Homo sapiens: one gene and its partner. The protein of the gene in region 1 interacts with the protein of each later gene in a pairwise test. Each region holds a gene or a part of one and is shown on either strand. Other genes may lie near its edges. The genes, in order: CSF1R and CTDSP2.

Region 1 (3,810 bases):
ACCACTTGAGAATCTCCTAGATACATGTTTATTTGCGTTTAATGCCTCTCTCAGCCACTAGAATGCAAACTCCATGGAGGGGCAGGGACTTTGTCCTGTTCAACTCTGAATCAGCGGTGCCTGACACAAATAGATGTTCAAGAAAGTATGTGGATGGGCTACTATTATTCAGCCTTAAAAAGGAAGGGAATTCTGACCTGTGCTGCAGCATGAATGAACCTTGAAGACATTATGCTGGGTGAAATAAGGCAATCTCAATAGACACATGCTGTGTGAGTCCACTGAGGTGCAGTGCCTAGAGCAGTGCAATTCACAGAGACAGCAGAATCATGGTTGCCAGGGGCTGGAGGAGGGAAAGGGGAGTTGCTTTTTAACAGGAACAGAATTTCAGTTTTGCAAGATGAAAAGAGCTCTGGAAACTGGTTGCACAAGGTAGAATGTAATTTACTTAATACTACTGAACCATACACTTAAAAATGGTTGAAATGGTAAATTTCATGTATGTTTTATCACAATTAAAATATATATATATATTTGGATGGGAGGTTGGGTGGGTGGATGGATGGGTAGATGGATGGACAGATGAACGGATGGATAAGATCTCAAGTTCCACCCTCCCTCCTGGCTCAGGAATTACCAGATTATCAGAGATATCAGGGCCCTCAGAGGTTGTCTTGTCCAAGGTCTTCAATACACAAATAGTGAAACAGGCTTGGAGAAGGGAAGGTCACACAACAAGGCAGAGTCAAGCAGGAACATGCTCTCAGTGCTATGTTCATGAGACGACCTCTCTCAGCCCAGAGCAGGCCTTGCCCTGCCTTCTCCCACTGGGCGCCTTGGGACTGCCCACACCCCTGCTCTTGGGGGTCAGAAACAAGGTCCAGGAACTGCCTGCCAGCCCCGACTGCCACGTGCTCCCTTCCTCTTCTGCAGAAGCCCAAGTACCAGGTCCGCTGGAAGATCATCGAGAGCTATGAGGGCAACAGTTATACTTTCATCGACCCCACGCAGCTGCCTTACAACGAGAAGTGGGAGTTCCCCCGGAACAACCTGCAGTTTGGTGAGATGGCAGCTCATCACTCCACAGCTTCCTATCACAGGGCCTGTGGGGGTTGCAGGGAGCCCATGGGCCCTTGGACAGAGGCCCTTTGGTGCCCAGGGACTTAAGGGACCTGTGTGCGTGGCAGGTAAGACCCTCGGAGCTGGAGCCTTTGGGAAGGTGGTGGAGGCCACGGCCTTTGGTCTGGGCAAGGAGGATGCTGTCCTGAAGGTGGCTGTGAAGATGCTGAAGTGTGAGTGAGGGGAGGGGATGAGGGAAGGGATGGGGGGTGGTAGATGCTGGGGGTGGGCTGGCCCTGGTGTCACAAGAGGCATCACACACATTTCAACCTGTTGAAGCCTGGGGGACAGAGCTCAGGGGTGAGGACTTGGGTTTTCTTGTGAGCTCCAGGCACCCTCTGACTCCCGGCTCCAAGAAGGTCTAGGTCACCCTTTAGTTGTGAAGGGGCTCCTGACTGAGCTCCAAAAAGTCTGGGGGTGCAGAAAGGCCACCTATGGCCATGGCCTGGCCACAGTTTGGCTTCCTGTCACCTGAAGACCAGCTCAGTGACAGGCTCATCCCTCCTCTCTCTCTCTCTGCCATCTGTGTGTCTGCATTTTTCCTTCTCCTTCTTTTGGCTTCTGGTCACTCCGGGTCTTGGGGTATGCCCTGCTTTCTCCCCTGGGTCTCTGCATTTGGTCCCCATGTATCTGTGTGGTGCTCTCTGTCCTGCCCTCTCCCTGTCTTTGGGACTGTGGTTCTTCCTCCCAGCCACGGCCCATGCTGATGAGAAGGAGGCCCTCATGTCCGAGCTGAAGATCATGAGCCACCTGGGCCAGCACGAGAACATCGTCAACCTTCTGGGAGCCTGTACCCATGGAGGTAAGGGCCTTGGGGTTCCTGGGGCCAAGGTCTTGGGGCCTCTGGGGAATCTCAGGGCCCCAGGGCTACCTTGTTCCGTCTTCTCCTTCTCAGGATCCTACTGCTCCAAGTGTCAGGGGGATCCCGGTCACAGCATCCCTTAAACTCCTGGGCCCATCTCCTGGAATAGTCAGGAGCTGCACGGGCAGCTTGAGGTATAAAGAGAGACTGATAGGGAGCATCGGAGCCCTTGGAGGAGGAGATGAATGTGCAAGCTCCTAGGCCCTGCTTCCAGGGAGCCGGATCCTCTGGGTCTGGAGTGAAGCCCCCCGCCTACCTCTTATGAAGCTTCCATTCAAGGATGCTTGGACACTCTCCCCAGGGCCCCCAAAGGTGCCCCGGGCTTTGCTGGGACTCCAAGTGCCCCACATCCTCTTCACTGATAGCAGCTCTGACCTACAGTGAGCCGCCATAGCTTTCCTTTGAAGAAATAATTCTTGGGCTACATTTTTTTTAAGGTTGTCTTTTTTTTTTCATTTTTTGTTTTTTTTTTCTTGAGACGGAGCCTCACTCTGTCACCCAGGCTGGAGTGCAGTGGTGCGATCTCGGCTCACTGCAACCTCTGCCTCCCAGGTTCAAGCAATTCTCCTGCCTCAACCTCCTGAGTAGTTGGAACTACAGGCACATGCCACCATGCCCGGCTGATTTTTTTGTATTTTTGTAGAGATGGGGTTTCACCATGTTAGCCAGGATGGTCTCGATCTCCTGACCTCGTGATCCACCCACCTTGGCCTCCCAAAGTGCTGAGATTACAGGCATGAGCCACCGTGCCCCGCCAAAGCCATCTGTTTTAAACAAATGGAACTACTGAGGCACAAGGAAACTTGCTCACAGAGCCGAGGTTAGAACTCAGCTATGCTGAGTCCAAGTCCAGTGGCCTCACTGCCCCCAGTCTCATGCTCCTGTTCATGGAGGGGAGCACTCAGCACCTCCCTCACCCCACACCCTTGGCTGCTCTAGGCCCTGTACTGGTCATCACGGAGTACTGTTGCTATGGCGACCTGCTCAACTTTCTGCGAAGGAAGGCTGAGGCCATGCTGGGACCCAGCCTGAGCCCCGGCCAGGACCCCGAGGGAGGCGTCGACTATAAGAACATCCACCTCGAGAAGAAATATGTCCGCAGGTAGCCCCTGGCAAAGGACAAGAAAAAGGCCAGGTCTGGGAGGCAGGATCCGAGTCTGTCTTCAAAGCCAGCTCAGGGTTGGATGGCTCATGAATGGGTGGCTATGCAGCCCTCACCTGCCACCTGTGTCATGGGAAGTAGCCACCACAGGTTTTATGGCCATCTCTTGTTTCTCTACTCCTTTTCCCCTTCATTCAACAAATATTTGAACACCTACCGTGTTCTGGGAGTGTGGAGGGCAAAGATGGGCAGCTCATAATCTGGTGGAGATATGCATCAATGAAATCACCACCCAGTGTGTGTAAAAGATCAACCAAGATCTGTGCCTGGAGCCCTAGTAAGAGATGGGCAGATGTGGCCGGGTGCAGTGGCTCATGCCTGTAATCCCAGCACTTTGGGAGGCTGAGGCGGGCAGATCACCTGAGGATGGGAGTTCGAGACCAGCCTTACCAACAAGGTGAAACCCCGTCTCTATTAAATATACAAAATTAGCCGGGCGTGGTGGCGCATGCCTATAATCCCAGCTACTCGGGAGGCTGAGGCGGGAGAATTGCTTGAACCCAGGAGGCAGAGGTTGCTGTGAGCTGAGATCACACCATTGCACTCCAGCCTGGGCAACAAGAATGAAACTCCGTCTCAAAAAAAAAGAGAGATGGCTCTGTTGTCCTGTTGCTGTGATTCCTGGAAGCCATCCAGAACAGAGCCATCCAACAGACAGAGCCACATG
Region 2 (3,810 bases), on another chromosome or scaffold:
GGAGTTTGAGGCTGCGGTAAGCCGTGATTGCACCACTGCACTCCAGCCTGGGTGACAGAGTGAGATTTTGTCTTTAAAAAAAAAAAGTGTACATGTACAAACACGTGAACACGTGCACACATACACACAAACGAAGACCAGAGTGACCAGGGCAACACTGTTTTTAATCTTCTCCTGAAAGTCAGGTCCAGATACCACTTTTGTCAACAACACAGCTTTGTGTCCCAGCAAAGGAACTCCTCACACATCTGCCTGCGATTCAGCAGAAGGTAACCTCTGAGACAATCAGATTTTAACAAGCCCATTCAGGTAGAAAGTTGCTTTCTTTTTTGGTTCATCCCCAGAAGTACTTCCTTCCCCACCACCTCCCATCCCCCACAGCAAAGGACTTAGCCTTAGCCTGGCTATCACTATAAAATGGCCCCTCTGAGGGGCCTCCTTCCTCTCAGCTATTGGAGGAAGGAGAGTATTTGGAGCATTTCCGGCCCTTCTTGGACGGCTGCCTGAACCCTGCAGCCAAGACACATTTGACTGGGACTCCCCCATGGAGAGAAGTCCTCCCAGGTCCTCTGCAAGGGGCATCTGTTCCTTGGCTATGGACATGCCCTAAAGTGCCAGGTGGACGGAAGAGCTCCTGGGACCAGCAGGTGAGTCGGCAGGGAACAAAAGAGGGTGAGATGCCTAGACAGCCCCCACACACAAAAGACTGCAAACAATGGGGAGGGTGTACTGCTTTCATGCCTGGCCACTGACACTGTTCTCTACAGCTAACAAGCAAGGCAGGGCCGGACCCAGCTTAGCACCGGCTCCCGAAGTTCCAAAAAGTAGCTGTGTATCTAACTGCATGGGCATTTTTTGAAAAAAGCAGTTTTAACACTTTGGGGGGCAAAGGCAGTGGGGATCACTTAAGGTCAGAAGTTCGAGACCAGCATGACCAATATGGTGAAACCCCATCTTTACTAAAAATGCAAAAATTAGCAGGGTATGGTAGTGAGCTCCTGTAATCCCAGCTACTCCGGAGGCTGAGGCACGAGAATCACTTGAATCCAAGAGGTGGAGGTTGCAGTGAGCCGAGATCACACCATTGCACTCCAGCCTGGGGGACAGAGCAAAACTCTGTCTCAAAATAAATAAATAAATAAATAAAATTTAAAAAATTAAAAAGCAGTTTTAGCCATGCTGTTTGGCCCATACCAGCATGTTGTATGCTGGTGCCCTCTCTGCACCAGCAACTGGGGCAGCTCTACCTAAGCCAGTGTCTCCATTAGTTCCCTTTCCCTGGGCAGGAGAGCTCCCTATATGGCTGTCTCTTCTTTCAGACCTGAGTCCTTAATGCCACCTGTGGGGCGAGGGTCACAGGTCACACACTTTCTTGTCTCTGCCCCTTCAGCAATCTGTTCTCTGACCTCAGCTAGAGAGGTAAGAGGACTCAGTTTTGGGAGCAGGGGATTTCTGGCAGTTCTAAAGCACGCTGATTTCAGAATCAGCCTCTAAAGGAGGTATTGCCAAAACACCCTCCTGGGCAGCTCCAACGTACTTTAAAAACGTGCTGGGTTGGGGTGGGCCTCCATAAGTAGCAGATCCTGGACCAGAGACAGAGGAGGCGTTTCCTCATAGACAAGTCAGCTGCAGGCTCAGCCCTGCAAGCCCCACTCCAGAGGACTCTTGAGGGATGTCAGGAAGTGATCTAATAGCCCACAGGGCAGCAGGGACAAGCCTGAGATGCCATCCAAGAAAACTCAAAGGACTGGATCCTGCCCCTGCCTCAGCAGGAGACCCTGCCCTATGTAGCACCAGCCAGAGCAAAGGTATCATTGTGAGGGATTGGAAACCACACTTGCCTACCTGGAGTTACCCCTCCTTCCCCCTAAGGAGGTGTATAACAAGCCCCTGTGGGAGGGGCTACACACAGACAACCTCTCAGTGAGTGTTTCAAGTTCCTGCCTTAGTGCTGTGCCCTTGACTCCTGGAATGCTTAGATATAGTTGAAGCCTAGGAAGAATCCACTGCTTCTTTCCCTTCCAGGTATGTAGGCCTGCTTTAGGTTGATACAAACGTGAGCTGGAGAAAGCAGTGAGGACACAGGACAAAGCAAGGGTATCTGTTCTGACCAGGGAAAAATACAGTGGTGACACAAGGCACCCAGACTTGAGTTCGAATCTAGGCTCTGCCATGTGTAAGGTATGCAGCCATGGGCCTCAGTTTCTTCATCTGCAAAATGGGAAGACTACCTATTTCTCAGTGTCAGAATTGCAGGGAGCTCAGGGAGTGTCCTGGTCCTAACAAAAGCTTTGTAAGTGTCAACTGCTACTCATTAAGTGCAAAGTACTTTCATACTCTTACCTCAGTCTCCATCTCAAAATGTTCACATTAAAGGGACCATAGAGATTTCTTCTAACTCATTTCAGAGGTAGTAACAGGGCCAAACCGGAAATGATGTTTTCCGGGACTCCACAAAAACGAATCAGTCGCACACACACATACACACTCATTGAGGCTGGCCAACCAGTTCCTCCTTCATATGGCTGGCCTCTGCAGAAGGAATGGAAGGAGTCTGCCAGGGAGGCACCCATCTCCAGGGACATTCTGCTGCTCCCCCCACACCCCTCAGCTTCACCTATGACCAGCCAAGCCGTATAGGTGAGTCCACTTGAGAAAGTACTGATCTAGAAGTCAGGAAACCCAGCTCTTGCTCCAGTTCAGCTTTTCAACAGTTCCGTGGCCTTGCTAGGGCACAATTCTCTGGGGTTCAGTTTCCTCATAAGCCAATCTGGAAAGGTTTCCCCTGCATGGTCCCTTAAAAGGTGGCTTCACCTGAAGCATGCACCTGAATCATGAACTCAAAAGCACTCTAAAAGGTGAAATGTTAGGCCGGGCACGGTGGCTCAAGCCTGTAATCCCAGCACTTTGGGAGGCCAAGGCGGGCGGATCATGAGGTCAGGAGATCAAGACCATCCTGGCTAACACAGTGAAACCGCGTCTCTACTAAAAATACAAAAAATTAGCCGGGCGTGGTGGCGGGCGCCTGTAGTCCCAGCTACTCAGGAGGCTGAGCCAGGAGAATGGCATAGACCCAGGAGGTGGAGCTTGCAGTGAGCTGAGATCGAGATCGCGCCACTGCACTCCAGCCTGGGCGACAGAGCAAGACTCCATCTCAAAAAAAAAAGTGAAATGCCAGACAATGCAAATGTCTGGCTGACACTAGCCATGTACCCTTGGGCAAAGTCCTTCCCTCTCCCTGTGAAAGTTTTCCTTATCTGTAAAGTGAGGTTAATTCCTCTTATTGGAAAGGAAAAGTTGTCAGGAGAACTAAGTGAGATACGAGATATAAAATGCTAGGAATAGTACCTTGCCTATGGCAAGTACTCTATAAATATTGGCTGTAACCATTACTGGGTAAACAAGGATGGATCATTACTCTGTCCATTTACTCTGAAAACTTTAGGACTCCCCTTGAAGAGCCACAGATCTTTAACATACAGTAAAACGGGACCACCAAGAGGAATTTTCCTGCTCGGGGCAAAACAGGCAGTTGGGGCCACTGCTGTGCCTACCTGGCTCTTCTCCAGGGGCACCTGTCAGAGCCACAAGGAGCATTTGGAACACATGCATGCCTGACCCACCTGCCCATGCGCTGATTCAGCAGATCCCAGGTGGGGGGTCTGTATTTTTAGCAAGTGTCACAGGAGACTCTGATGTGTGTCCCTGGCTGAGAGCCAGTATCTACCGGTTGCCAGGGTCTCTGACTAACCCAGGGCTAGAAGGCAATTCAGCCAAAGTCCCCTTGGCCCCTCTCCCCACCGTACCTGA

Evidence for each region.
Region 2: the proteins of CSF1R (region 1) and CTDSP2 interact in a two-hybrid assay, tested with the Homo sapiens proteins (one study listed by BioGRID and IntAct).

What each region holds. Positions count from the first base shown.
Region 1 is NC_000005.10:150,058,973-150,062,782, reverse strand, and holds part of CSF1R (macrophage colony-stimulating factor 1 receptor isoform a precursor), read left to right. Parts: intron 1-933; coding exon 934-1,060; intron 1,061-1,187; coding exon 1,188-1,292; intron 1,293-1,810; coding exon 1,811-1,921; intron 1,922-2,920; coding exon 2,921-3,083; intron 3,084-3,810. UniProt on the Homo sapiens protein: Tyrosine-protein kinase that acts as a cell-surface receptor for CSF1 and IL34 and plays an essential role in the regulation of survival, proliferation and differentiation of hematopoietic precursor cells, especially mononuclear phagocytes, such as macrophages and monocytes.
Region 2 is NC_000012.12:57,836,568-57,840,377, forward strand, and holds part of CTDSP2 (carboxy-terminal domain RNA polymerase II polypeptide A small phosphatase 2), read right to left. Parts: intron 648-3,810; exon of another isoform or gene 524-647; intron 1-523. UniProt on the Homo sapiens protein: Preferentially catalyzes the dephosphorylation of 'Ser-5' within the tandem 7 residue repeats in the C-terminal domain (CTD) of the largest RNA polymerase II subunit POLR2A.